3 linked regions of the Homo sapiens genome follow. The protein of the gene in region 2 purifies or fractionates together with the protein of the main gene of each other region. This does not show direct contact. Each region holds a gene or a part of one and is shown on either strand. Other genes may lie near its edges. The genes, in order: SUGT1, LRRC57 and MACIR.

Region 1 (10,711 bases), on a different chromosome or scaffold from region 2:
AATACATACACAATCAAGTGTACCTGGCCCTCTCCTAGCCTCTAACAATAGCACACAACTCTAATAAAACCCAACTAAATATTCTGTTCAAAGCCCAGATACAATCTAATAGATGGCTATGTCAACTACCAAGAGTTAACATTAGAGATTGAAACTTTTTTAACTTGTGCAGTCACAACATATAGGTGTGGTAGCTGGAAAAATAATGATGTAAGAGATTACACAATTAGGGAGATCAAAGACAAGTGCAGGAACACTTTTATTTTCTGCCAACTGCCTACAAACTCTAGGGATTTGGTAGTTTTCTTAAATGGTAAAATTATTTCAAGAGCCACATGTATCATTGACTTTGCTTTAACCTAGTAGTGTGACTCTCAGAAAGCAACATATACAGATGCTCCTCAACTCACATGGGGTTACAGTCAATCAACAGAAAGTAAGGCTCAAATCAAGAGAGCAAAGAAGCTGTAAGATGCTACTTTAAGGGCCTCACTTTGTAGCTTGCAGGCAGTTATAAGGAATTTGGACCTTACGTTTGATGGAAAGCCATGGAAAGTTCACTGTTAGTAAGGGGAACATGGTCCAATTTACTTTTTTTTAATGTCATTCTGGCTGCAGTATGGTAAATACATTATCAAATCAAGACTGGAAACGGAGACTTCTTAGGAAACTATTACATTAAGTCTAGGCTAGAAAAGGATGTTAGCCACAGAGGTGATGAAAAGAAATACGATTAAGTTGGAACATATTAGAAGCAGAGAGACTTGCTAATGGGTGAACATGTGGGATAAGAGAAACTGAAGATGACTCCAGGGTGTTGGGCTTGCCTAGATCTGTATGTGACATCCAGTAATCACTCAATGAAAAGTATTGATTTTTCTTCTTGCAGACTTTTTTCAGCCTTTTCCCCAGTCTCTACTTTGACTGCATCTCCTTTGCCATAGAATACAAAAATATTTGCCTCTCTAGTCTTAATCTTCTCAAAGTCACTAATAACCCCTTATAAAATCCAACTGATTCCTATCTGACTTGATCTCTCTGTGGCCCTTGACAATAATAACCAGGCCTTTCAGCTTACCATTCTGCTGCCTCTTAAAAACTAATGTTCTCCTTGGGCTCAGTACTTAAGACTTCTTCCCCTCTACAAACATTCTTTGATTCCTTAACTACTGGGGGGCTTCACATATGTGTTGATGCATGCTGATGACTCAAGTCTATCTTGAGCCTAGACAGTGGTCCTGGGCAACATCAGCATATAGTTTTCTCTAAACTTTACCTGAAATGTCCCAGAGGCAACTCATATACAAATATTCACAATCTAAAACTACTTTCTATCCTCAAACCTATTCCCCCATGCTGAAGGCAATCTTCTAAGTGCTATCATCCTAAGTGCTATCTAAATGAATGGCACCAGTTCCTACAACATTCCCCCAGCCAGAAACTCAGGAGACATCCCTTATATTCTAATCGTCACCAAGTCCGGTGCATTTTACATAAAACAACTCACCTCCATGCCCTCAATCACTGCCCTACATGCAAATATTCATCTTTGACCCGGTCTGCACTACCATCTTCCTGCTATCCACTATCCCTTGTGCCTCCTCCAATTCGCTATCTACTCTGCTTTTAAAGTAGGTTTTGTAATTCAGAAAATTTCATTTTCCTTCCTCCAAATTCTTGACGGATCTCCATAATCATATGATAAAACTGAAAACCCTGTGCTGGGATTTAATGCCTTTGATGGCCTGGCCTCACTGTCGCCTGGGCTGGAGTGCAATGGCGCGATCTCAGCTCACTGTAACCTCCACCTCCAGGGTTCAAGTGATTCTCCTGCCTCAGCCTCGCAGGTAGCTGATTACGGCTGCCCACCACCATGCCCGGCTAATTTTTTGTATTTTTAATAGAGACGGGGTTTCACCATGTTGGCCAGGCTGGTCTCGAATTCCTGACCTCGTGATCCGCCTGCCTCGGCCTCCCAGAGTGCTGGGACTATAGGCGTGAGCCACCGCGCCCGGCTGCACTTCTAATGAATTGCCAGGTGATGCTGATAATGCTGGTCCAAGAGCCATACATTAAAAACCAAGGTACTAATACTAGCCACATGACTATCCTAGGCAATTCTTCTCCTAGGTACATACAACCAAAAGAAATGCATGTGTTCACCAAAATACATGTACAAGAGTATTCACAGAAGCTTTTTGTTAGCTAATAACTAGAAATAACCCAGATGTCCACTGTTAGAATAAATTGCGCCGTACTTACGGCTATACAACATATATTTATACAATGGAATATTACACAGCAATGCGAAAGAACTACTACTTCACACAATATGAATGTATACTTATGTAATCATTAAAGCAAAAAGAGTGTCTACATTCAATAAAGCACCTACTGTATGATTCTGTTTATGAGTCAAGAACAAACAAAACTAACTGATGGTGATGGAGGTCAAAGCAGGAGTCAGCAGGACAGTAAGAAGAATTACTGGCTGAGAAGGCGCATTAAGGAGCATTATGAATGGAGATACTCTGTATCTTAATCTGGTGGTGTAAACATGTGAAAACTCATCAAACTATAGACTTAAAATCTGTGTTATTTACATAAATCATATATGCCTCCATAAAAATTTTTAAAGTAAAAGAAGATGGAAAGTGACAATAAAATTCATTATGTTAATACTGTTTAAAAGCAACTTTTATATAAACTGGATTCCCAAAGGAAGCACTAGGTCTAACACGACAATAACAAATGTAAATTAAAAGTCATAGCTGTCTAGCTAATACAAGAAATTATGGAGAAAAATTCTCAGTGCTTCCTGTAACATTATCCCCAAACTCATCCCAGAAGCCTTACTCCCAGTATCTAAAGGTCTATATATTTAGGTGTAAAAAACACACCTGGACCCTAAAAGGCCTTATAGGACCTGGCTCCTAGTTTCCTGTCCAACCTCTCTTAATCAAATGGGCCCTCTAATAAAAAGGGCCTTTTTGTTGCTTCACATACAGGCCAACTTCATTCCTACCTCAAGATCTGCACTGGCTCTTGGTCCTGCCTGGAATATTCTTTCCCCAGAGCTTCCAAGTTAATTCCCTTGTTCCTTCAAATCTCCACTCAAAGATCTCCTCAACGGAGGCTCTAGTACCATGTGGCACATTTCTTATAAAAGTCATAGCTAGAAAAGACGCTGTCTTGCCTCAAATTGTTAAACGTAACAGCAAAACAGGTTTCCTCTTTTCTGTGATTTAACGCAAAAACAAACAAAAACTCCTGGCTAAATTCTGTGACCCGCAGCATCATTTATCTTTAGGTTCTCCTTTAATTCTTATTATTTAACTCTTGATCTTTTACATTCCTTTACAGCTTTATGGTTTGCCTTCATTGCACACCTACAAAAAGTGATTTCTAGGTTAGCTGAGTATATAACCAAGACTTTAACCCACAGCAATCAGCGCCTTTGCACACAGCCACTCCAAAAAAAAATTTTGATGAATATACAAATGAGTGAATAATGAATTGTGATAAGACATCTGGAAAGTTTCAGGGACGTGAGGGAAAAGGGTTTTGCTCCAGTAGACTGACTTCATACCGACACTTTTACGTAAGAATGGCAAGAATTATTGTCAAACGAAAAAATTAACTTCATCGAGCCCAGAGTCCACTTCTCTAATCATAAATGTCATTAAAAAAAAAATCCTTTCAGCCAAACTACAAATGCCAACCATGCTCCCAAGAAATAGAGGAGGTTTTTCTCAGGAGCTGTAGGGAGTGGAAAGGGCAAGACAGGAGTCTGGGGTAACGCGGCTACCGTGTAACAGAGAAAAGAGACGGAGAATCTCAATACCGGAGCTGAGACGCAGCATCAACAAGAGCCTGGGTCCCTGTCCGGCGGTGCGGGGAGAAGGCGGGTCAGCGGGGACCCGAAGTGGCCCAGCTCCCCTAAGAAGAGTGGAGGAAGCAGAAATGGGCTCTCTCACCTCTAACGCCGCCTGGGGGTCCTCGTCGATTAGGGCATCCGAGAAGCTCTGGAAAAACCTGTCAGGAAAACAACGACTTCAGCAGGGCTCACTAGCCAAGGAAAGGGGGATAAAATAAATACCAAAGGGAAAGAAAAACATGCACCTCTGGGATGTTGCAGTTCCTGCTGCAGCCGCCGCCATCCCTCGTAGTCGCTGTTGCTGCCGCCGGAGCTGCTACTATCACGGTTACCACCTCCACCACCGCCCAAGGGGGAAACTTCTGGAGAAACACCAACCGAGCTTCCGTCCTAAATAGCCAGCGAGCAGCCACGCAGCGTGCTGCTAGGGGGACGGGAGGCGACACGCCGGCGCGGGGCCGGCTGGGACAGTGGAGGACCGATTCCTCCCAGCCGCACCCCGGCCCAGGACCCGCGCTCCCAGTCCCCGCCCCTCGCAGCCATGGTTACGGAGGCCTGGGGCGTACACGTTCTTCCTCCCTTCCACCGCGCCCACGCCAGCGGGCACTCCCACGGAGCTTTCAGTAGTACTTTAGAAGCACTTTTGTAACGTACTGTCATCCCTAAGGAACGTGTGGCGGTTAGGGGCGTTTGTATGTCTGTTAATAACGGAAGCTACTTCGAGCTCCCATTTTCCCTAGTTTTTATCATGGCTGCCACAGCTAGCCAAGCCCTTTCGCCTCCATTACGTCTTTAGCGGCTGCGTGGTCTCTTCCGGGAGCAGAGGCCCGGATGACGCGTGGATCCCCGCGATCTTTGGGCTGGGGATTCTAAACGACTGGGACTTGCCGGAAGTCATTCTGCACTAATAGCGGCAAAAAGCCTTCTGGTTCCTGGGGCGACGCGCCCGGCGGCCGTACTATTCACTTCCCCAGAACGCCACAGCCCAGGCTTTCTTCTTAGTGGGCTTCCCAGACCAAGAAGGGAAACCTTTCATCCGAAGGTACTGAGGGGAGGAAGGTGGCCTGAAGTTATCTCAGTGCCGCTTTGTTTCCCACCCCAGTCGGTCAGCCCTTCCTCAGCGCCCTTTAACCCTTGCAGATCGGATGGAGAAAGCTGCCAGCACGTTCTAGGGATGGGGGCAGATTGAGGAGCGGGAGGGAGTAGTCTTTGTCTAACTTTATACCAGTACCAAACTATGTTAATTTAATGTAGTTTTATAATAAATCTTTAAGTCCTGTAACTTATTCTCCCAAGATTGTTTTGGCTTATTCTACGGCCTTTGTATTTCTAGGTGAATTTTGGAATTAGCTTGTTAAAAAGGGGGGGGATTTTTTATTGGGCTCGCATTGAATCTATAGATCTGTTTGGGAAAACTAGTATCTTAACAACAAGTCCTTCAATCCATGAATATCATTCTTCCCCCACCATTTATTTAAGCGGTCTTTAATTTCTCCTGGCAATATTTTGTAGATTGCACATATATCTATATTTTAATGCAGCTGTGCTTGGATAGATTGCAGTATAGAGATCATATATATCTTTCATTAGATTTATTCTTGAGTATTTAGTGTTTTGTATACAATGTTAAATGGCATTTTGACTTTTTTATATTCTACTCGTAAGAATAAACAATATTGATTTTAACATACTGACCTTATATGCAAGCATCTTGCTAAGTTCCCTTGTTATTTGTAATACTCTGTAGATTCTTTCGGAATTTCTGTGATCAAAATCTTGCAATCCACGAATAAAGATGGTTTAACTTCTCTGTAACCTTTATACCTTTTATTTTTATTTATTTTTGCCTTTTGTTGCTGGCTAGTGTTTCCACTATTGAATAAAAACAGTGATAATGGACTTCCTTGTCTTGGTCATAACATCAGGAGGAAAGCATTGAATATCAACTGCTTTTTCTGCCTTTATTGAAATGTTCATTTGTATTTTTTAATGTTACTGTGAATTACCTTGGTTAGTTTTCAAATGTTATCTAAATGGCCAATTGTCCTTCTGGACCCCACTGACTCCAGTTGGGATGGCACTGTAAGAAGAGAGGCAGAGTCAGTGAAGGAGACAAGGTTTATTCAGGATTTACATACAAGGGTGGTCCGGTGGTGGAGGGCTGACCTGGAGAACTGCTACCATTTGTAAAAAGCACGTAGTCTATATAGCATTTTCACTTAGCACTCTCCTTCTAGCAACCTCCATTTAACCCCAAAGGGCCTTGATCTGTACAGCGTAAGATACGGGCCAGGGATGTGGATGTCCTTCATAGATAAGGAGTGAATCTCTGGGTTGGCTGCTCCTGGATTCCTTAGCCCAGGACTCCAAACGTAAGTTCTTCTTAGACCATAGGGTTAGTCTCAGGTATGCTCCGGTTATGGCTCAGCCATACACTAATGTGTGTACACCAGCCTCTGCCATGCACCAATACACATATATGTATGGCCTCTGAAAGGGTGAATTCCAAGACCGCCCTATGGGCCCAACATGAAAAGAAGTTCTATATATTATGGACATTGAAATCAATGAGATACCAAAACTACCACCAGAATGGCTTAAATTAAAAGGACTTCCAATACCAAGCACTGACAAGGATATGTAGCAACTGTATCTTTCATATATTGTTGGTGAGAGTTTAATCATTTTGGAAAACTGTGGTACCGTATGTCTGTTCTTGCATTGCTATAAATGAGACTAGGTAATTTATAAAGAAAAAATGTTTAATTCACTCATGGTTTTGCAGACTGTACGAGAAGCATAGCAGTTTCTACTTTTGCAGAGGCCTCAGGAAGCTTCCAATCACCGCACAAGGCAAAGGTAGAGCAGCCATCTTACATGGCAGGAGCAAGTAGGGTGGGGGTAGGTGCTACACATTTTTAAACAACCAGATCTCACAAGAATTCACTGTTGCAAGGACAGTACCAAGAGAGGTGGTACTTAACCATTCATGAGAAACCCACCCCTATGATCCAGTTACCTCCCACCAGGCCCCACCTCCGACATTGGGGATTGCAATTTGACATGTGATTTGGGTGGGGACACATATCCAAACTATATCAGACACTATCTACTAAAGCTAGTTATACACAGACCATAACCCAATAATTCTACCACTGGGCATATACCCAAGAGTATTTATTATTTATGATCATGTAGAAGAATATTCATTGCAGCATTACCCAAGGTAGCAAAAACTGGAAATAATCTAAATGTCCTTAAATAGGAGAAAAAAATATTACATAGCAATAGGAATGAACGACTACTACACACAACGATATGGATGAAGCTTATATACATAAGTTGTGGTAAAAAAAAAAAAAAGCCAGACGGAGTACATCATGATTGATTCCACTTAGATGAGAGGTATCATAAGGGAACCTCCTGGTTGTCAGGGAGGGTGGGGAACAGGAGCATGAAGAAATCTCGGATGCGGGAAATGTTACATATCTTGATCTGGCTGGTAATCACAGCAGTGTATTCAAACATAAAATTTTATCAAGTTATGCACAAGATTTGTGCAGGCTGGGTGCAGTGGCTCACGCCTGTAATCCCAACACTTTGGGAAGCCAAGGCAGAAAAATCACTTGAGCCCAGGAGTTCAAGACCAGCCTGGGCAAGATGGTGAGACCTCGTCTCTACAAAAAATAAATAAATAAAAAACATTAGCCAAGCATGGTGGCGCGTGCCTCAGCTACTTGGGAGGCTGAGGCAGGAGGATCGCTTGAGCCCAGGAGGTTGAGACTCTTATCGTGTTACTGCACTCCAGCCTACGTAACAGTGTGAGTCTCAACAACAACAACAAATTGTTCACTTTGATTTTGCAGATTCGTTTGAGGAGAAATGATATATTTCCCTTGTATTGCCTCTTCCAGTCCATGAACATAATTGCTTGTTTCATTCAGTTATTCGTATGTCTTTTAGTAAAGTTTTTATAATTTTCTCCATAAATTCTTGGCATCAGTTTATTGAAATCTTGGGAGGAAGGACAGACAAATGCTTAAGAAGTTATTAATAAATGTTTTCAGCCGGGCACAGTGGCTCACGCCTGTAATCCCAGCGCTTTGGGAGGCCGAGGCGGGCAGATCACCTGAGGTCAGGAGTTCGAGACCAGCCTGGCCAACTTGGTGAAACCTCATCTCTACTAAAAAATACAAAAATTAGCCGGGCATGGTGGCAGGCACCTTAATCCCAGCTACTTGGGAGGCAGAGGCAGGAGAATCGTTTGAATCCGGGAAGCAGAGGTTGCAGTGAGCCGAGATTGAGCCATTGCACTCAAGCCTGGAGGACAAGAGCGAGACTTATTGCAAAAAAAAAAAAAAAGTTAAAAAAAAAAGTTTTCATGTGCAAATGACACAACTAAATATACCAATGTACTTAGCTTTGGTAATTTAAAGAAGGGGAGGAGTAACCATGCTGGATTAAGTGGGCATTTATTGAAGGATAATTGATCTTCAAATTGAAGAGTGAAAATAGTCACTTATACTGTGTTACCTAACATTTTCCTAGGAAAGGGATCCTTTTCATTTAAAAGAGAAAACCATCCCAGTCTAACATTGAAGCCATCCTTAAGTGTATTACACTTGATAATTTCAAACTGAATCTAACAAAATCTCTTATTTGTGTCTTTTTCACAATAAAGCTTTCCCAAAGAGAAGTTTAAAAAAAAGAGAGAAAATTTTTAAAAGATTTGTACACTTTACCAAGTTTATACTTCAACAGAAAAAAGATTTAAAACAAAATCAGTAACAATCAAAATTTTAAATGCAAAGAGTCATGACATGTATAGTAACATCAAAATATTAAATACTGAAAAATAAATCTGACAAAAGATATGCAAGATGTGCACCGAAAACTAAAAAATATTGCAGCCAGGCGTGGTGGCTCACGTCTGTAATCCTGGCACTTTGGGAGGCCCAGGCGGGTGGATCACCTGAGGTCCAGGCTGGCCAATATGGCGAAACCCCATCTCTATTAAAAACACAAAACAAATTAGCTGGACGTGGTGGCGGGTGCTTGTAATCCCAGCTACTTGGGAGGCTGAGGCAGGAGAATTGCTTGAACCCGGGAGGCGGAGGTTGCAGTTAGCCGAGATTGCGCCATTGCACTCCAGCCTGGGTAATAGAGCAAGACTCTGTCTCAAAAAAAAAAAAAAACCCAACAATATTGCCGAGAGAAATTAAAGAAAACTAACAAATGGAGAGCTACTCCAAATTCATGAGTCAAGAAGACTCAATATTGTTGAGATCTCAGTTCTTCCAAGATTGACCTATAGACTCAACATGATCCCAATCAAAATCCCTAGTCAGGCATGGTGGCTCATGTCTAATCTCAGTTCTTGTTGGGGCTGAGGCAGGAGAATCGCTTAGAGGCAAGGAGTTGGAGACCAGCCTAGACAACAGAGACCCCATCTCTGAAATAAAGTACATTTAAAAATCCCAGAGCTGGCTGGGCGCGGTGGCTCACGCCTGTAATCCCAGCACTTTGGGAGGCCGAGGCAGGCGGATCACAAGGTCAGGAGATCGAGACCATCCTGGCTAACACAATCAAACCCTGTGTCTACTAAAAATACAAGAAAATTAGCCAGGCGTCATGGCAGGCACCTGTGGTCCCTGCTACTTGGGAGGCTGAGGCAGGAGAATGGCGTGAACCCGGGAGGAGGAGCTTGCAGTGAGCCGAGACTGCACCAATGCACTCCAGCCTGGGCGACAGAGCAAGACTCCGTCTCAAAAAAAAAAAAAAAAAAAAAAAAAAAAAAAAAAAAAAAAAAAATCCCAGAGCTTTTCCCTTTTAGAAGTTGACAAACTGATTCTAAAATTCAAATGGGGGAAAAATTCAAATGAAAATGCAAAGGACTTACAATAGCCAAATCAGCTTTGAAAAATAACAAAGTTGGAGAGATAACATTACTTCATCTCAAGACCTGTCAACCTTGTGGTATTGGCACAAAAATAGACAGATTAATGGAACAGAGAATCCATAAATAGACCCATACCATATGTAGACAGCTGATTTTTAACAAAGGTCCAAAGGTAATTCAGTGGAGAAAAAACAGTTGAAAAGGAGAGACTTTAAAACAGACTGGATATACATGTGCCAAAAAGTGAGTTTCAGTGTGTATCTTTGCACCATGTACAACAATTCACTCAAAATGGATTATGGGGCTACAACTCCTATAAAACTTCTAGAGGAAAGAAAATCTTTGTGATCTTGGGTTAGACAAAGATTTCTTAGCACACCAAAAGCATGATCCATAAAAGAAGAAATTTGTAAATTAGACTTCACCAAAATTTAAAAGATTCTACACTATGAAAATATTTGCAATCACATCTCTGATGAAGAGCTTGCATCCAGAATATATGAAGATGTCTCAAAACTCAGAAACTGTAAGTCAATAGGGAAATAGAAATTAAAACCACAACCATATGCCACTACACACCCATTTAAACGGCTAAAAGGAGAAAGACTGACCATGTTGGCAAGGATGTAGAGCAACTGGAAGACTCATACACCACTGGTAGGAATGTAAAAAGGCACAACCATAAAATGACTTAGACCACTGCTACACAATTAGCACCCAAGAGATATGAAATAACATGTTCATGCAATGTTTGTACAAAATGTCTGTGTCTGTTTATAGCAGTTTTAATGGTTAACAGTTGAAAACTGGAAACAACCCAAATGTACATCAATAGGTGAATGGATAAACAGTAGTACAGCTGGCCAGGTGCAGTGACTCATGACTGTAATCCCACACTTTGGGAGGCGGAGGCGGGTGGATCACCTGAGATCAGG
Region 2 (10,524 bases):
AATGCTTTTATGAAGGTCACCCATGGCTTTTTGGGAACAAAATTTTCTGATGATAAAAGCACTGTATGTTCATTATAGAAAATTTGAGAATCACAGGTTTAAAGAAAAAAGTTTACCTGGAATCCACCACCCAGAAATAACCACCATAAACATTTTGGTACATTTACTGCCAATGTTTTATGTGTACATAGATACTGACCACTTTACTACCAAATTCAAGGATCCATTGTCCTCAGTCCCTACTGCATTTAACTGTACTATCTATCCCTTCCTTAAAACCCCTTATTTTTGTCCTTTTTTGGTTTTTCTTCCTATCTTTTGGATTCTTCCTTACTTCTCTTGTTTTTATGGGCATTTTTCAAGTAGCTGTCTGTAATACTTCATATGTCATCTTCTCTCTAAACTTCTTCTAGAAAGCTCATTCATTAAAGTCCATCACTTTTGTTATGACCTCAAGATCTGTATCTATACTCTTACCTCTATTCTGCTCCCACGTTTCCAACTTTCAGTAAGATATTTCCATTTACAAGATTCACCACAGACAACTCAGCATGTCCATTCTCAATAGCACTACTGTTCCTTTAGGCCCTCAAGCTCAATACCAAGCAATTGTCTTTGACTCACCCCTTTTGCCATTTAAATACTAAAAGTCACCAAATTATTTGATTCTGCCCAGTATCATCTCAGACCATCACTTATTAGAAATCATGGGAACTTTAATAAGTTCAATAACTAGCAATGCAAGTTCTCAGACCTCATCCCAGCCCTACTGGATCAGAAACACTGAGGGTAGGGGGCTAGTGATCTCTTTAAACAAGCTTTTCTGGTTAATTCTGATGCATACTAAACTTAGAGAACCACTGAATAAAGGTACTGGCAGAGGTGAATGTGGAGCAAATCCTCAACTAATACTTGCTGCTTAATTGATTCAGTTTTTTTTTTCCCCCAAGAAGCTCTATAACATACAAGAATATCCACTTAAGGTAAAAAAACATGAGGCCAATTCCTCAAAGACAGACTGAATTTCATCATGATGTAAAATCACTACAATCTAGAAAAGTAATAACCACATGCAGCTTCTGGCCACTTTAATGGACCATGCAGATCTAGAAATACAGACACTAGAAAACTAAAGGCCATCCAGTCTCACAGTGTTTAATATTTCATCACTTGTGCCTTCATGCCTAGACAAGAATCTTTGGATTGGTTTTCCAGACAAATATTAATTGAAAGCTTCCAAAGTAATGGAAACAAATTTCAAATATTATAATTAAAGCTGTACAACAGTGAAATGGGCTATCTCCAGAAAGCCTATCACTTAATATTCTTCAGCAAAAGGAGACACACTTTGTAACAAAGATGTCAAAACCCCACACAAAACGAAAAACAAAACTGAATTACCTCTGACTCCCGACTCTGAGAACCTCAGTTTAGGCCTCATTTCCACATTATATCCCTGACATAGCTCCTGGCTAGCTGGTTAGGGGCATATATTTGAGGAGGATCTGAAGAAGTCTTCAAGATTTGTGAGACAGTAGTTTAACTTTTGAAATGATCTCTCCCTGTTACCTACCCCACCCTCCCCAAAACACCTACACAACTAACACATCCAGTGTCTCAACTAATTCCATGGCACTTTGGGCCTTGAAATTAGTTCAGCCTATAGAAGAAACCTCTCATTTAGCCTCTGATACTTAGCTCTATGATGGCAGTTTAGGAAACAAGAGGTTAACAGGTATCAGGAGACCTTAAAGCCACACATATGCTGTAGGAAAAAAAACCTTAAAGCTCTAGACCTGATTCTGGTTGAGGTTGAGTTCGATGACTTGCAGCTCTCCCACTGAGTCAGGTATACTTCGAATCTGGTTCTTAGAGAGATCCATCACATCCAGGTGCCGTAGGCTACAAAGTTGGGGAGGTAATGCTCCCAGTTGGTTCCCAGAGAGGCTCAGGGTCTTGAGGGCAGAGAGTTGCCCAAAGGTAGACGGCAGCTCTCTAAGGTGATTGTTGTTTAGGCTTAGCGTCTCTAGTTTTTTCAGATTGCATATCTCATCAGGCAGAACAGCTGGCAAAGAAAAATTTTTTTAAAACCTGAATGTGATAGAGCTGAAAACAACTTTGATGAAGTTTATAAAGACTATATGGCAGCCTGCTTCGCCTCTTGTTAATATATGTAAAACTCCCACATGTGCCATTTTTAGATATTGCATTTTACCAACATAGTCTTTAGAAGGTGAGGGTGCCATCAAAATGCCGGAGAGCATTTGTGTGTATAATGGGCTCCTTTTGTAAAGGGGCCCAAGGCACAATCCGACAGCAATTTTGTGATATTTGGAAGATCCTCCCCTTCTCATCCATCCCCCATTCCAAGTTAGGTAGCTTTGTTTACATTACATCCCCAAAATGTTCTTCTCTTTCAAGTCCAAATTAACCCAGTAACAATCATTATAACACCCAATCATTATAAGGCTTATTTTAGATGTAATTACAAGAAGTAGAAAGAAGGCTTCAAGGATTCCGGCATTCGCAACTTGAGCCCTCCTGCACGGTTTCATAACAAAAACAAAAATCAGCTTGTAAGAGAAAACCACCCCTGGTAACAGCTGATCACTAGCAAAAGCCTCCCTGGCGAGAGCCATACTCAGTTTGTTGTTGTTCAGGGAGAGGCTCTTCAGCAGAGTGAACTTTCCTATCAGCAAAGGCGGTAGGCTTTCGATCTTGTTGTTGGACAAGTCGATGGTCCTGAGATTGCTCGTCAGCTTCTGCAAGTCTGCGGGGAACTGGAGAAAGGAGTTCACAGCGTGGGGAATCCCGCACCGACTAAGTTCGCCGCCCCCGCCGTCCCTCTCCCTTTAAGTTCCCTGGTCGTGTCCCTCCCAGTCTCACCTCGGTCAGCCCTCGGTCCTTAAGCTGAAAGACACCAGTTTTCTGCGCCGTTTCCACATGAGCGCGGAGCGCACTGTTTCCCATCCTAGCGCCGCGGCTCAGGTCCCTGCGGGAAGGAAGCGCTGCTGTCACCGCCCAGTCCACCCGGTCGGCCTCCCGGCTGGGGCTCCTGCCCCAGCTCTCAACTCCCGCCGATCCCTGGCTCCTGGGGCCCGACCCAAGAGCGACAAGGAAGAAACGGAAGAACACACAGCCCGACCACCAAGCCCTGCCGCCTTTGCAGCTCTGCGGAGGCCAGGCGCCTCTGGGAGCCTACGGAAGATCAGGGAGCCCCGGACTCGCCTCCCACCGCTCAGCTGCCGTAAGGCTCCGCAGGTGAAGACCCAGGACCCGCAGTAGCCGGGATGCGCTCCCCGGCTTAGTCCCGGGCGGGAACGCCCTGTGACGTCATCGAGCCGCGCCGTGCGTTCGCCCTGCGATCCCGCTCACTCTTGGCGCCTTCGCGGAAGGTGCGTCCGAGCCATGGCCGCTGCCAACCCGTGGGACCCGGCGTCCGCGCCTAACGGCGCTGGGCTAGTGCTAGGCCACTTCATAGCTTCGGGGATGGTCAATCAGGTACGTGGGGGTGGCGGTGGTGTCATCAAGGGGGTGCCCAAGGTGGCAACAATATGGCTGTGAGTTGGTGCTGCTGGCTGTGGGAGTGGTGAGGGTCCTGGTTGGGGTCTGTACTAGAGTAATAAGAGCCCCTTCCAGGCAACAGCCGCGAACGTTCTGCCGTGGATGCTTGGAAAGCGGGGATCTGAGTAGATGGTGTTTAGGGTAGACTGTGTTTTGAGTGTCTGTAGGGTAAATTTGTCCCAGTCCAGTTTGTGGGAGATTAGACTGTTACCAGCCTTTTTTTCATCCAGTGATACTGCCTCTAGACTGTAGTGTAAGGGCGGGGATGGGAAATACGGGTCGTTCTGTCCCCTTGCGGAACAAGCATTTCCAACAACCCTCGTTTGTGGGAAGTGTTGAATCGTATTTGGGGCGGGAGGTGCTGGGTAGAGAAGAGCGCCAGAAGCTCTTTTTTGACATTTTTATTTTATTTTATTATTTATTTATTTATTTATATGAGACAGAGTCTCGCTCTAACGCCCAGGCTGGAGTGCAGTGGCGTGGTCTCGGCTCACTGCAACCTCCGCCTTCCTGGTTCAAGCGATTCTCCTGCCTCAGCCTCTGGAGTAGCTGGGACTACAGGCGCCCACCACCACACCCAGCTAATTTTTTTTTGTATGTTTAGTAGAGACGGGGTTTCACCTTGTAAGCCAGGATGGTCCCGATCTCCTGACCTCGTGATCCACCCGCCTCGGCCTCCCAAAGTGCTGGGATTACAGGCGTGAGCCACCGCGCCCGGCCTTGGCATCTTTAAAGGCAAAAAAAAAAAAAAAAAAAAAAAAGTATTGGCTAAAAAGATAAGACCTTGGAACGTGAATGGAGGAAGAGATTAATTTTGAGAAGGAGAGAAAAGAGACATTAACCCAAGGAGTCACGGAGTGGCAGTTTTAGGTTGGGCAAGAGGAGCATGTCGGAGGAAGGAGCCAACAGAGGGAGAAATTGAACATGTGAGGAAATAATGGAATGCAGTGACAGGAGGGCATGGGGCAAGTGGGATCAAGGGCATTGAGAAAAATGGGGAAATAAATTTTGATATATAGAGGAAGTTGAGAAATTTCACTAAAAAGAAAACAGAAAAGTTAAACTGATCTGTAAAAATCAGCACATATTAGCCGGCATGGTGGCGTACACCTGTAGTCCCAACTACTCCGCGGACCACATGGGTCCTGGAGGCTCAGATGGGAAGATGGCTTGAGCTTAAGAGATGGAGGTTGCAGTGAGATGCGATCGGGCCACTGCACTTAGCCTGGGCGACAGAGTGAGACCCTGTCTCAGGGAAAAAAAAAAAAAAAAAAGCACTACAAACATGATGGAAGATTTACGGAAAATACATAACTTTTTATAGTCAGAAGAGCCATTAGAGACTCTAATACCTTACAGTATTTTTTAATTTAAGAAACTAAGGCTTAGACCAAGAAACTTGCCCATGGTCACTAGACTGTTAAAGGAGAATTAGATCTTAGTACTCTCCCTTTTGACACATTGTATCCCCTCTCAAGATGAACTGTTATAAGAGGCTGTGATACTGTATTAAAAGATTTTAAGCTTTTGTTGAACACCCATTGTCTGGGTGATGGGGAGATTCAGGTGGTCCTAGTTGACTAACTTTACCAGGAGTGACCACAGCACTCTACAGTGTAATCCTTCCTCCCTTCTCTCCTGTGTTTTCTTTTTTTTTTGAGACGGAGTCTCGCTCTGTTGCCCAGGCTGGAGTGCAGTGGCACAGTCTTGGCTCACTGCAAGCTCCACCTCCTGGGTTCATGCCATTCTCCTGCCTCAGCCTCATGAGTAGCTGGGACTACAGGTGCTCACCACCTCACCCGGCTAATTTTTGTATTTTTAGTAGAAATGGGGTTTCACCATGTTAGCCAGGATGGTCTCGATCTCCTGACCTCGTGATCTGCCTGCCTCTGCCTCCCAAAGTGCTGGGATTACAGGCGTGAGCCACTGCACCCGGCCCTCTCCTGTATTTTCTTTTTCTTTTCTTTTCTTTTTTTTTTTTTTCTGAGACATAGTCTCCCTCTGTTGCCCAGGCTGGAGTGCAGTGGTGTGATCTTGGCTCACTGTACCCTCTGCCACCTGGGTTCAATCAATTCTCGTGCTCCCGAGTAGCTGGGACTACAGGCACCTGCCATCACACCTGCTAATTTTCATATTTTCAGTAGAGACGGGGTTTCACCATTTTGGCCAGGGTAGTCTCAAACTCCTGATCTCAGGTGATCTGCCTGTCTCGGCCTCCCAAAGTACTGGGAGCTGAACCCAGCCTTTTTCTTCTTATCAGGTTACCTAGTACTCTCACTTGTATTGTCCAGTTCTCCTGTCACAAAATAGTTTGGCAAACTCATAATAGAAAACATTTTTGAGGGTTCACTCCTGTAATCCCAACACTTTGGGAGGCCGAGGCGGGTGGATCACCTGAGGTCAGGAGTTTGAGATCAGCTGGGCCAACATGGTGAAACCCAGTCTCTACTACAAATACAAAAATCAGCCGGGTATAGTGGTAGGTGCCTGTAATCCCAGCTACTCGGGAAGCCGAGACATGAGAATCGCTTGAGCCCTGGAGGTGGAGATTGCAGTGAGCAAAGATCGTGCCACTGCACTCCAGCCTGGGTGACACAGTAAGACCCTGTCTCAAAAAAAAACAACCCCCCAACTTTTGGTACTTGGTATCCCTCTAAAGAGCATTGGTAGGAAATACAAATGCCTAAACCAAAGGAGTAAGGCACTGGTGACAGAATTTCAGGCATTGATGGGTGAACTCTTTTTTGGGGGTGGTGGTTGTCTTGGGGGTGTCTACTGTCTCTCAAGTAACATTAATTAGACAGTTACTGGTTTTACCTACAGTTAACATGTCCCACTCCATAGCTCCTTAAGATCCCACTCCATAGCTCCTTAAGACTTCTGACAACCTTACTACACAGCTAGTCCCAATGAGGGAGCTATTTACAGACTTGTAGGTTGGTTTTACTTTAAGCAAACTTTATACATAAAAACTTTTGTCTCTTTTTTTTTGTTTTTTTTGTTTTTTTCCCTGAGACAGAGTCTCACTCTGTTGCCCAGGCTGGAGTACAGTGGCACAATCTTGGCTCACTGCAACCTCCGCCTCCTTGGTTCAAGCAATTCTCCTGCCTCAGCTTCCTGAGTACCTGAGATTACAGGCGCGCACCACCACGCCCGGCTAATTTTTTTAATTTTTAGTAGAGATGGGGTTTCACCATATTGGTCAGGCTGGTCTCGAACTCCTGACCTCAAATGATCCACCCGCCTCGGCCTCCCAAAGTGCCGGGATTACAGGCATGAGCCACTACACCCAGCCAAAAACCTTTTCCTATTAGAAGGATTTAGCATTGATTCTTTCAAAATGATTTGTCACGTCATCCCTTCAAACAGCCCATCCCTTTAATGCACATCATTTTTTGTGCATTAAAAATTAAGACTATTGAGTTCCTGCTGGCAAGGATTTTTTAAAAATTGAGTGATTCCTAAAATTGTGATTTGATACAACTCTTCTAGAAAACATAGCTTGTTTGAAGTTTTGTTTCAATCTGTTAGAGAGTGATTTGGTGAAAGAAAGGTAGGGCTATCTGTAGGATAATGGGGTATTGCTTTAGTTTATTCCCCTAGGGACTGCTTTAGTGGCCTTACATTCTAGATATTTTTCCAGCAAGTGTGAGTGAGTCATGGAGTCTTGACCAAAGCTTGATCATTGCTTATTGGCAATTAATAAGATCAGGGTCTGGATCTACCAAAAAACCCACAGAATCTACTAATTCTGTTTTCTTAACTTGTGTCCTACTCTCCTCTATACCTCTTCTCCCATTTGAGAGCCTCTGCTCTTAAATTCTCTGCTATACTACCTCCCTTTTAATGTCCCTCAGCTAGAATTCAGTATGAAAAGGAAGGGATAGGAAAAAGAAGAAAGAGTGCCCACCAATTACAAGTTTATACATACATATATGGTATATAATGTTACCAGGATTTTTTTTTTTTTTTTTTGAGATGGAGTTTCGCTCTTACTGCCCAGGGTGGAGTGCAATGGCACGATCTCAGCTCACCACAACCTCCGCCTCCCGGGTTCAAGCAATGCTCCTGCCTCAGCCTCCCAAGTAGCTGAGATTACAGGCACATACCACCACGCCCGGCTAATTTTTGTATTTTTAGTAGAGACGGGGTTTCACCATGTTGGTCAGGCAGTTCTCGAACTCCTGACCTCATGATCCACCTGCCTCGGCCTCCCAAAGTGCTGGGATTACAGGCCAGGATTTTTATATTAAGTATAAAGGTTCTGGATTTGAGCTTCTTCTTGTGCCTAGCCACGGAATAAACAGAAATACCCTGAATAGACTCCTTTTTCTCAGGATCCTTTCATTTTCAGGGTTCTTTTGCCCTTTGGGGCATGTAATAGCAATATATAGTAACAATAGCTAAAGGAAAAGACTTTTCTGTATTCCCCAATCCCTGATACTTTTTTCTTTTTTTTTTTAAATGTGTTAAACTAAGTCTCAATCCTCAAATAGTTGTACTTCCTATTTATTATGGAAAATAAGCCTCCACCTCCCTAAGTGCAGGGATTACAGGTGAGAGCCACTGCACCTGACCCTCTTTCTTTCTTCTCTCCTTTTTTGTTATCTGCTTCTTAAACATTCTTATTTTTCCTCTGGTTTCTCTTGCATGTTCTTAGCTAAGCACCATTACTCTATTGTTGAACCCGACAGTTTACTAGTTTGCCAGATGTACAACTAAGATTAGTGTGTAAGCATGGAGAGAGGGAGATATACCAGTGAACAGGTTGGTTACAATGTGATAAATTGTAGAAAATATTTTACTTTCATTTACCTCCTGAGAGAAACAAAGAAAAAAGGGTCAGCTGATATGATGGAAGGGCAGTGGATTAGATGTGTTCTCACTTCCATCTTGGCACACACTGGCAGTGTGAAGTTGGAGTAATACTTTCCTGTTCCTCAATTTTGCCATCAGTAAAATATCTTGTGTTATCTACTTCAGTGAATGGCATAACTCTGTCCACTCACCTGAAGCAAAATCCTTAGAGTATTAACTGGATTTTATCCCTTACCATATCAACTAAGATTTGTCAATTCCATCTTTGCAGGAACTCCCATCTTTTCTTCCTTTCCTTTTTAACTGTTACTGACCTAGTCCACATTCTCATCCTTACCTGGAATACTGTAGCAGCCACCTGTTTAAATATCCAACCTCTCCAGTCTATTTCTCCACTAGTGTTTTTTCTTTATGTTAGCTAGTTACCAGGGTTTTCCTTCTTTTTTTTTTATTGTGGTAAAATACATATAACATAAAATTTACTATTTTAACTGTCTTAAAATGTACACTTCAGTGGCATTTACTATACTCAATATTGTGCAACTATTTTCAAAAACATCTTTATCACTCCAGATGTAAACTCTGTACTATTCCCTATTCCCTCCTCCCTCTTCATTAGTGTTTTTATTTTGTTTGTTTTGTAGGTGTATTTTTTTTTTTTTAAGAGAGAGTCTCTCTGTGTTGTTCAGGCTGGAGTGCAGTAGTGCGCTCACAGCTTACTGCAGCCTCAGCCTCCTGGGCTCAAGTGATTCTCCCATCTCAGCCTCCCTAGTAGCTGGGATTACAGGCATATGTCATCATGCCTGGCTGATTTTTGTATTTTTAGTAGAGACAGGGTTTCACCATGTTGGCCAGGCTGGTCTCCAACTTCTGATCTCAGGTGATCTACCCCCTCGGCCTCCCAAAGTGCTGGGATTACAGGTGTGAGCCACCACGCCCAGCCAGTTTTATTTTTCATACTGCCCCAGTTAAATATCCCCACCTTCCCCGCCGCCGCTGAGACAGGGTCTCACTCTGTTGCCCAGGCTGGAGTTGCAGTAGCATGATCACAGCTCACTACAGCCTCAATCTCCCAGGCTCAAGGGATCTTCCCACCCCAGCCTCCCAAGTAGCTGGGACTATAGGCACATGTCACCATGCCTGGCTAATTTTTTTTTTTTTTGAGACAGAGTCTCTCTCTGTCATCAGGCTGGAGTGCAATGGCGTGATCTCTGCTCACTGCAACCTTCGCCTCCTGGGTTCAAGCGATTCTCCTGTCACAGCCTCCCGAGTAGCTGGGACTACAGGCACGCCACCACACCCAGCTAATTTTTGTATTATTAGTAGAGATGGGGTTTCACCATGTTGGCCAGGATGGTCTCGATCTCCTGACCTCGTGATCTGCCCACCTCGGCCTCCCAAAGTGCTGGGATTACAGCCGTGAGCCACGGCGCCCGGCTGCCTGGCTAATTTTTTTAATTTTTTGTAGAGACAGGGTCTCCCTGTGTTGTGCAGGCTGGTCTCAAACTCCTGGGCTCAAGCAGTTCTCCTGCTTTAGCCTTCCAGAGTGCTGGGATTACAGGTGTGAGCCATCATGCCAGCCTGTATTTCTAAATAAGTATTATGTATGATTATATTACTTCTTCACCAGAAAATGTTCAGTTGCTCCCATTTTCTGCAGTATGATTGTTGAGCATAGCACTCAGGATCATCTATGATTATGTTGGAGACTATGTTTTCAGCTACATCTTACCCCTCTTTTCACATATATGCTAACACTGGTGGTTATTGAGCATTTGTAATGTTTTTGATCTTTCTATCTAGAATACCTTTTTCTTCCCATCCATTATGAGCCTCATGAGGGTAGAGAGCTTGTTTCACTCATATTTGAATATTTCGTTGACTAACTCAGTAAGTGTTCATAAAATTGATTATTTTTGGACAGTAAACTTTTACTATGAAGAGCCAGAGAGTAAATATGTAAGGCTTTGTGGGCCATATGGTTGCAGCTACACAACTAGGTGGTTGTATAAAAGCAGCCAGAGATAGTGTGTAAATGGATGAGAGAAGTCATGTTCCAATAAAACTTTATTTCTGGACCATGAAATTTGAATTTCAGATCATTTTCTTTTCTTTTTTAAGACGGAGTTTCGCTCTGTCACC
Region 3 (10,237 bases), on a different chromosome or scaffold from region 2:
TGCTCTTTTTTGCTGTCTTCTCTTAAAACACCTTTATTTTTCTCTATTACAGACTGAATTAGTTTATCAAACATATTTTTCATGATAGGAGGGATATGGTAAAGGTAGGGTACAATGTAATTCTCATGGAGAGAAAGAAAAGCAAAGGTTCCAAAAAGCTGAGAATGTGACTTAACACCAAGATACATCCAGATATTGCCCACAGTCAGCTCCTATGCTATAGGGTGTCTGAGTCAGTGACACACTCCTAGAAACAAAAATTATTTCACTAGGCTCTAAGCCTGGGGCACCATCCTACTTGCTAATTTCTTTAACCATACACAGAGATATCTCAAAGAGGTCTTAGAGTCCATGAACATTTTTTATAACCACCTTTCCCTTCCAGAAGATACTTTCTATCTTTTTCTTACCTCAATAACCTGCTCAAGTGATTGTTTTTCCTTGTTATTGTTTTGAAACCGATAAAAGCAATGCATGCAAACTGAAAGCTCTCCAGTCCAAATAATTCATATTGATGTACTATAAATGGCAAAATCATTCTTCATCCCCTACCAATGCCGGACATATCTTGAGGAAACCCCTATTAATATTTTGGTATATCCTTCCTTTTTCCGCGTATTTACAAATGTAAGAGTGAGTGATTACTTCTTTCTACAATGAAAACATGCAAGAGTACACATAGGCACACATGAATATTTCTGCAGGAAATTCCAGAAGTAAAAATGCTGAGTCAAAGAACATGTACTTTTTAGATTTTTATAGCAAGCACCACAAAACCTTATTAATAATGTTTCTGGTTTTTATATGGATATTCTTTTATATAACTAAAAATTAATGTAAACACTTTTAAAGAGTATCATCTATACACTCACCAGAACAGTGCCTGTTTCTCCTCTTATTGCTTAGAAACAGGAATTATCAAAAGAAGAAAGGAGATGATGTACTTCCTTTTGTTTGATGTGTTTGATTTTTCCAAGAAGAAAAAGATAAATGAAAGGGACATGACTGCCATTCTTTGACCTCAAATCTCCTGATATTATTCTCACTTAAAACACTTAGATACCTCTTTAAAGAAATTTACAAACTAAATGTAAACTTTCCTTCAAAAAAGGAAAGATAACATTTCATTCATTTATATATATTACAAAAATATATACAGTGTACATTTCAAAAGCATTAGGTACAGCATTCAATACCCCAATACCAGTATTCTGGCTGAGACTAAAGCAAACAGGTCCAAACCATAACACACGTGAGTGGAACCCCGTGCACCAAGAAGAACAGTCAAGAAAGTAGACCTGTATAAAATCTGCACAGCTTTGAACACTCTTCAAGAGGCCAAGCTTCCTATCTATTTGGCACAAAGAGCAACATTTTGAAAATATGATCTAGATGCCTTAGCTCCTTAGACCAGCTCTGAAAATAGCTAATAAATTTCAGAACTGCTATACGAAGAATTCTTTTTGAAATTGCATTCTGAGAATTTTTAAAAATAAGATTATAAAAAAAATTCACTCCCAGTAATCAAAACACTGCTCCATATGCTTTCACTGTTTTTTTTAGCAACATACAGCAATACCATATAAGAGAAAACAGATATCAACATAACCATTTTAAATATGCAGAATAAAAATGTCATCATGTTAAGAAAATCCTTTTCAAGAAGTACTTGAATCAAACCATTTCTTATAGAGCCATTTTTGGGGAAACAGGGTCTCCTAAGCATGGCTAATACCAGTCTAGTGATATCATGATATCTAGAGCCACCTATTTTTGTGTTTTTTGTTTGTTTGTTTGTTTGTTTAGACACAGGGTCTTGCTCTGTCACCCATGCTGGAGTGCAGTAGGGCAATGATAGCTCACTGCAGCCTCAAACTCCTGGTCTCAAGCGATCCTCCCACGTCAGCCTCCCAAGTAGCTGGGACATAGGTGTGCATCACCAAATCTGGTTAATTATTTCTTTTATACTTTTAGAGATGAGGTCTCACTATGTTGTCCAGGCTGGTCTCAAGCAATCCTCCCTCCTTAATGTCCCAAGTAGCTAGAATTACAGGTGCGAGCCACCGCCCCTGGCTAGAGTGGTATAGTTTTAATGCCAGAATCATCTTGGACATAACCTACCTGGAACATCCACCTTGAAATATAGAGAAGACACTGAAACCACCAAGACAGGGTCCTGCCCAGAGCCACATAGATAGTTAATGCCCATAATTACAACCCAGGCCCCCTGGCTCCAAGTCCATGTTGTGCTTCTAGCATGTGGTTCCCAAACTTGTCTACACCAGAATCATGCAAGGAGCTTCAAAAACTGCTGATGTCTGTTTTCCATCCCAGATTTGTGATTTAACTGATCTGGGGTGTAGCCTGGGTTCTGCAAGTTGTAAAAGATTCCCAGGTGATTCTAATATGCATATAGGTTTGGGAACTTGTCAGATAGAACTTATCAGATAGAAGAGTTTCACTCTTTTAAGTCCCTCCTTTGTTTTTAATCAGTAATTACTGTATAGTCATGTTGGTGAACATAATTTTTGGCTGCTTATAATTGCTAACAACCTACCCCTAGGCCTTCTAATTTACTGTTCCTAATCCTCTGTGGGCTGGAAATATCTGCTAACCAAACGTGTTAAAACTGCATATAAAATAAAAATAAATCTGTGCTGAATGAGAATCGGGCTCCTTCATCTGCACACACTTTGGCGTAGTTATTTTAGCTACTTAGAAGCCTTTGTCAGGTGCAGCTACGTTAGAGAACAGTTTGGCATTTACTTATAAAATTGAATAAATGTTCATTAAACAACACAGCCACCATACTCATAGATATCTAACCCAAGAAAAATGAAAATACACGTCCATACAAACACCTGAATGTGAATATTTATGACAGCTTCATTCACAAACACCGAAACTGGAAACAATCCAAATATCCATCAACAGGGAAAGAGATAAACAAACTGCAGTCCATCCCTACAATGGATACCACTCAGCAATGAAGTGGAACAATCTGGGGAAACATTAAGTGAAAGAAGCAGACATTACACCTATATACTACATGTTTCTACTTACGTGGCATTCTGGAAAAGGCAAAACTATTTGCCAGAATCAATCATTAATTGCCAAGGCCTAGGGTGGGGAGAGGGGATAACTACAAAGGGGAAAAAGGGAATTTTGGGGGGTGATGAAAATGTTCTATTTGTTGACTGTAGTGGTCATTACATAACTGGATACATTTGTCAAAATGCATCAAACCGTACACTTTAAAAGGACGGATTTTACTAAGTTATAATAAACCTGACATTAAAAATAAATGAACTCTTTGTCACATATTTCCACGTTTCAGATGGTCCTCCAAATTTTAAATTTTTTTGTACCGTATAATTTTGGAATCAAAAGGAATCTTAATAGTTTCCCAGTGTATGTTTGAACACCTTCAGTGACAGGCAACTCACTGCCTCCCAAGATGACTCATTTCACCTTGTGCAGCTCTGCTAGAATGTCGATTTATTTACACATATATCTGTATGTACATGCATATATACAGTCAACCCTGTCTCCACGGGTTCTGCATCCATGGATTCAACCAATCACAGAGAGAAAATATTTGAAAAAGCAAAAAATTACATCTACACTGAATATGTATAGACTGTTTTCTTGTCATTATTCCCTAAATAATACAGTACAGCCACTATTTATGTAACATTTACATTGTAATAGGTATTATAAGTAATCTACAGATTATTTAAAGTATACAAGAGGATGTGCATAGGTTATAGGCAAATACTATACCATTTTTGTATCAGAGACTTACGTATCATCAGATTTTGGTACCTGGGGGAAGTCCTGGAACCAATCCCCCAAGGATGCCAAGGGACAACTGTATAAATATAGGTATATACAGAGATAGATGGATAGACATAGATACACATACATTCCTGTAGTTTCTACCCATTGCTCTAGTTTTGTGCTTTATTTCTATTAGCTGAGTCAGTGACCAGGCCACATTGTTTTTTATTCAATATCCTCTCCAAGTACTTTGTACTATGGTTTTCAAACTTCTTACTCTTTTCCTCAAAACTGAAAATTTTAGTAACGTTTCCAATTTTCCAATGTTCGAAAATGCATTTTCATAAATGTAATAGGTTTTATCTACTTAATGAGATTAAAGTATTTGTTTTTCCCTACCATTCCTTTGAATCATTCTGCTGCTGACTAGAAATTTAGAAATCACTTATTATGAAACTCCGCTTTCTCTAAGGATTATGATCTCTTTACATAATTCAAGGCAAGGATGCACAAAGATAATGGCCAAGTAGAATGACACACCAAAGCATGAAGTCACACTAATATAGTCTTAAGGATGCTAAAGAGCTACCATAGCTCATTATGAATTTCTTTTTTCCCTTCAAAGACTTCGAGACACATGGACAACTATGTCAGCAAAGATACACAGATGACACACTGAAAAAAGACAACTAAAGGAAGAAAACAGCATTGCATATTTTTAACCGTTTAAATTCAGGGTGTGATAAAAAGAATGTCACATTTTCAGTGAACTGCTGTACGACTAAGTGAAAATAATGCTCCTTTCAGACACCTGTTGGCTCATTCTTTATGTATGATAATATATAACCAGAATTTTTTGCAAATTATTTCAGCAATGTTTGGAGATTAATGTTTTTACTAAAATTTGCCCCAAATTGGAACAGTTACCTCTAACTACTATACTTTGAAATATTATTTCATAAGATCTTTACGTTGAAGAAATTTAAAGGAAGGAAAACTTAGCCAAACATTTCAAATAAAATAATGTTTGCATATTGCAACAATAAGTTCATTTCTCACCATTAAAAATTTGTAATTATAGTATACATATTTGCAATAATACACCAACATTTCACATTCACTTGATTAACTGACATTTCACATTCACTTGTTTATTTATGTAGTCTTTAAAAAACACATTATGGTATTGTGTTCATACAACTGTTAACGAACGGAAAAAGCAAAATATAACTTACCAGACTAAATCCCAGAAGATGTCACTGTACAATTTCCAATGAGTCCCAAGGGAACACAGACATAATAATTTTTCTGTTCTACTCCAGGTACTAAACATGAAATACAAAAATAAACCTTTAATTTAACAAGTAACACAACTTATAACATGATATCAATTCTAACTGCAAAAGAGAATAAAACTAGCAGGAGGTAGTAACATCAAGTATAGGTTATATAGGACCCAATAATTAATTAATTCAATTGATGTTGAGTTTGTTCACCTAAATGCATCCTCAAACATTTTATCATGTGTATTTCTCTGTACTCTGTTACTTAAATTCTACCTAGAGACTAGGAGTACCTAACTGGGCTAAATAAAGAGACAAGAAAAAGTAAGGTAATAAGTATTGGTTTCACCATCCTAGTCCTATTCATGTGTTCAACCGATTCACAGTACTCTATGGAAAAAAAATAATGCTTAGGCTAGGATCAAAAGCACAGGCCATAGTTCCTAGCTCTGGCCTTGCCAAGAACTCTGCCTCTTGACCCTGCATAAATATCAATCTCTAAAATGTGGACCGTAATAACCCCCCTTCCTCCCTAATACAGTTGTTAGATGGATCAAATGAAATGAGGTAGGTGAATGCTTTACATGCTGCAAAGCTCTTTACAACGTGTGATGCTATTATTATGCAATTAATTTTTGGTATCGACTCATTGTAGCCATAAAGCAGCAACAATGTAAATCTTTCATAAGACTGATGCGAGGCAAATGATTAGAAGTCTCTTGGATAACACAACAAAAAAAGAGAGTGACTGAAAAAGCACTTTTTTATAGTTACCACCTTACTTAAGGTTTCTAGCATCTCCTCTGTGCCTTCCCTCTCTTACCTGGGAAGTTAATGTGTAAGAGAATCTATCTTTATCTCCTACCTCCCTAGTTAATAGGGTTAATTTGCTGAGACGAGGAAAACCCTCCAAAGTCCTTTTCCACCTGTAAAAGTTTCTTTGGTTGTTGGTTTTCTGTTGGGTTAAACAACAGAAGCAGTTGGAGGGGTGTCAAATGAAGCGAGTAGATTCATTTTATCTATGTAGGTGCACAGAGCCCAAGAAGTGTCAACAGTACAATACCTTATCAAACAAAAGACAAACTGCAAGAAAAAAGGCAAGGAGTTTGTAACTTTATTACTTTCCCTACCAGTACAGGAGAGTTTTATCCAAAGGAAATAGATAATTACTGAGTTTAATATGTGCTTCTTTAGCTTGAGAAACTGGAAGGAGCCAATGCACCAAGAACTGTCACTCCAAGAAACTAGCATGTTTATCAGCCTTTGCAACTTCTTCAGATGTAGATAACAGAAACACTCCCTTTCATGTATTTTGCCACCAACTATTCTCAAATTGGGGAACCAAAAAATCTTGAAAAGTAAGCCTTGATTCTACCCCACCAATGAAGCCTCTGGTTTTAACACACAGTAAATTGTAACAAAAATTGTTACCTACAGACAAAATGTTTATTTAATATAATTATCCCAAAGAATTTCCCCAATACTAATAACATTCATCTGCATTTCTTATTTAATGGATTTTTAATGGGAAAGAGGAGTTCTAAAAACGAACATTTCTTTAGCATCTTCCTTATGTCAAAAGTGATATACAATTTATATCATTTAATCTTAACTACTCCATGAAGAAAATATTATTATCCCATTTTTAAAGTACTCTTTAGTAGTAGCCCTATTTTAAAGTACTCTTTTAAGTGATACTACATGAGAGTCACAGCAGGAATTGGAACCCCAATTGGTCTGACTCCAAAGATCATTTACTTTACACTCTGGCCTCTGTTCAATGATAAGACAACATGTATAGCCTTTTACACAATAATCATGATCCCGCAAAATGTATATCAAGTAATTTCTATAAGTGAAAATCTATTTTAAGTGTATGGGTAGGCACTTTATCTAAAAGCTTTATTGCCTCATTTGTGAAATGGTTGGGGGAACTACTTAGCTGCATGGTTATTTCCAACTTGAAAAATATTAAGATTTGGTGGCACATCGTGGAAAGTCTTATACAAAATCCTTCTGAATCATGGACTCTTTCTCCTATGAGCTTCTATTTTCTAAAATCATAAATTATGCGACAGAAAAAAAGGTATCAACCAATACCGTCTGGTTATATGGTTGGATATCAAATACAGTTATATATTTCCGCTTTATTTCTCAAGACTACATCTATCACAAAGTGGGATAGATTTCATTTATACTTTTATAAATGTCAATTTAAAACAAGCAGGAGGAACATTAGAAATATCTGAATGTCTTAATCCTAAAGAATAGTTTTGACAGTCTTAAATCTCATTCAAACTTTCATATAATTTGCCTCATGTATTTGGTGACATATTCTTCTTTTTAAGCTTTTAAATGCATTAGAAAAATATTTACACTTTCAAAGAGTTTCTTTTTCAACATCAAAAGAAAGAAATCAACTAAAACTTTAGTCTGGATTTGAAAGCAGAGGAGCCTTGAAGACATTACCCAACTCTTGCACTGGAGCTGATGTGTAAATCTAGGAAATGATCGGTAATTTCATAGTAAACAAAGAGTAGTAACTGATTATTCCTATTATGCCAGTGCCAAGCCAAAAATAGAATATAAACACAATGTCCAAGGGAGCAACACAAGAAAACCAAGGTGCAGAAGCTCCATTACATTCTCACTTTTTCTAATTTTGACTCTGCTTCCTGCTTTGTGGGAGGAGGAGGAAGAGCAGGAGGAGGAGGAGGAAGAGCAGGAGGAGGAGGAGGAGGAGGAGGAGGTATATGGTGAAAAAGAGGGAAAAATAAATAAAAAGAACAAGACCAGAAACTAACTAGTATAAGATTATACGTTTTCTTTAAGACATAACCCATAAAGAAATCTACTACAAAATTACAGTAAGGGTTCTACCCCCATCTCCCACTTATAACAATTAAAAGATTGTAATATAAAAATTCCCAAAACATGTACCTTTCAAATAACACACATTTTTAGAATACTTTAAAAATCTATAATTCTCTAACGCTTGCAACTGATTTTGGCCAATGTTCTAAACACTGAAGGCTTGGAAAGATATCAACAGATTTCCTCTCCAAAACAGTCAGCAAGAGGAAAAGGAATCCATGTGAAATTCTTAGAAGATAGACTAAATGCTGCATAAAAACAAAGACTGAAGTAAATAGAGCAAAGGCTACAAGATATAATAAATGCTTCCAGTTATAAGAAGCTGAAACAGAATGCAGTGGGACATTATCCCATAAGCAATAAAAATAGGAAAAAACCAAGCAGTGGCCAAGAGCTGCCCACAGACTTCTGGATAAGAAAGTCATGGGTGACTAAGCAAAAGACACCCAACATTTCACTGCAAGTGGAGCTTCTACAAATAGAAAAGTTTGCAAACATTAACTACCAAATGTATCGAATTTCTCAGGTGATAGTTATTATCACAGGTAAATAAGAATGCCTTTCAAAAGAAGAGTGACTATATATCTCAATTCATAGTCAATACCCTGGCATAATTATTGAAAGCAACCCCCTTTAACTCTCAAAAGTGTCTCAGTTTGGCTGTTTCATTTGTTATCCTACTCAAAAGCAACATGGAAAGGCAATGACTTTTTTAAAAAGGGAAACACCCTTCTGCTTGAACGGTGAATTCCCATACAGGTCTGAGTTCTTTCTTCGGGTGTACCCACTTAGATATTCACTTATTCAGTCATTCAACAATGTTTCTTAAGTCTTATTATATATCCCCACACTATGCAGGCACTGGTGCACATATAAAGAGATGGCCTGAGACTGGGTCAGAGGGGAGGGCAGACATGGAAATAAATCCTTCTAATAACAGTAAACCTGAATGGCACTAGGAACCCAAAAAAGGGAGTGCCTTTCCCAAAAATATACAAAGCTCCATTTGGAAATGTTTATGTCCATACAAAATTCGTAAACACACAAAAAAGTCGTGAATCTCAAGCTTCAGCACAGATCACTAACAAAACAGCAGTAAGAAAAAATTTAACAACATTGATCACAAATCATAAGACTATAAATATGAGGACCAGCACATAGCCCTTTCAAATATTGGTAAATAAAAATCACATTCATCATTAAAGTTTATATTATGAAAGGACAAATTTTAGGCAGAGAAATTGGTACAGTAGAAGCTGTGAGTTCTAATTCTAGCTATCAAAACATTTATTTTCATTTTTTTCATGGCCCTAACCTGAAGCCCACCAAAACATTTTCAAGAAAGAAAAGAAAGAAAGAAAGAAAGAAAGGAAGAAAGAAAGAAAGAAAGAAAGAAAGAAAGAAAGAAAGAAAGAAAGAAAGAAAGAAAGAAAGAAAAAGAAAAACAGGTAGTATTTTCAGAGTGGCTATTTAAGAAGAGACCACTAATGGAAAAGCACTTGGAAAAAAAACATCAATTTTTAAAAATTCTTTCAAAATAGTGAAAATATTTTGTAACCACTAATCTCAAAGACCACTAAAAACAAGTAAAAGATGAACCAAAACATCTCTGGAGGAATACTAACTGAACACTAAGCAGAAATAAAATGGCTTAACTGTCAAAGTACAACACAACAATGAAAACAAAATGTTTAGCTGCACCTAGATGCTCATCTTAGAGGCTTCTTTCAAATATTCTTACTTTACCATTTGCAACTTGCAAAAAGTAAGTCATCAATACTCTTTAAGAAGAGTTAACTAGGGTGTGACTTTTCTGAAACCATCCTTGACCTTACAAACAAACCATTAACCTTGCCAACTTTGTAAGATAACCCATAATTCGTTCAGTAAGACAAAAATGTGTTTCTCTTTCTAGTATCAGTTCTTTTAATAGCAATCCACCCCCTTAAAGTGCAGCACTCATTATCTTTCCATTTCTGCTAGTAAAAATTAAACCTAGGTTACTAATATCTTCTTATCACGTGGTGTCATCCTTCTACTTTTAGAAAAATACTCAGTTTCACTGCAAATATGACCGACAGTAAGTGGAACTAAAGGTCAACATGCAGCCTTTACAAGAAATTTGTCTCTTAGGAAGTATCATCAAAATGGAACAGGTGTACACTGTGGAATTGGCTAATCTTTGGGAAGGCTTAAAACCAGGTACTCATTTTGATAGGCTGGTGACAAAATCAAAGTTCTCTCTGGAGGAAAGGAGCTGATCCCCCACCTCACCCCCAGCTACAAATCAGCAAAGAAAT

The links.
Region 1: the proteins of LRRC57 (region 2) and SUGT1 purify together in Homo sapiens (co-immunoprecipitation; 3 studies listed by BioGRID and IntAct, with this or other methods). This does not show direct contact.
Region 3: the proteins of LRRC57 (region 2) and MACIR purify together in Homo sapiens (co-immunoprecipitation; 3 studies listed by BioGRID and IntAct, with this or other methods). This does not show direct contact.

The regions. Positions count from the first base shown.
Region 1 is NC_000013.11:52,646,370-52,657,080, reverse strand, and holds the start of SUGT1 (protein SGT1 homolog), read right to left. Parts: upstream 4,246-10,711; 5' UTR 4,161-4,245; coding exon 4,123-4,160; intron 4,036-4,122; coding exon 3,978-4,035; intron 3,931-3,977; exon of another isoform or gene 3,845-3,930; intron 1-3,844. UniProt on the Homo sapiens protein: May play a role in ubiquitination and subsequent proteasomal degradation of target proteins.
Region 2 is NC_000015.10:42,545,465-42,555,988, forward strand, and holds the start of LRRC57 (leucine-rich repeat-containing protein 57), read right to left. Parts: upstream 3,330-10,524; 5' UTR 3,229-3,329; intron 2,993-3,228; 5' UTR 2,971-2,992; coding exon 2,887-2,970; intron 2,781-2,886; coding exon 2,642-2,780; intron 2,066-2,641; coding exon 1,797-2,065; intron 1-1,796. Other genes in the region: HAUS2 (HAUS augmin-like complex subunit 2), read left to right, coding at 3,409-3,501.
Region 3 is NC_000005.10:103,260,776-103,271,012, reverse strand, and holds part of MACIR (macrophage immunometabolism regulator), read right to left. Parts: intron 7,120-10,237; exon of another isoform or gene 7,007-7,119; intron 5,106-7,006; 5' UTR 5,016-5,105; intron 1-5,015. UniProt on the Homo sapiens protein: Regulates the macrophage function, by enhancing the resolution of inflammation and wound repair functions mediated by M2 macrophages. The regulation of macrophage function is, due at least in part, to its ability to inhibit glycolysis.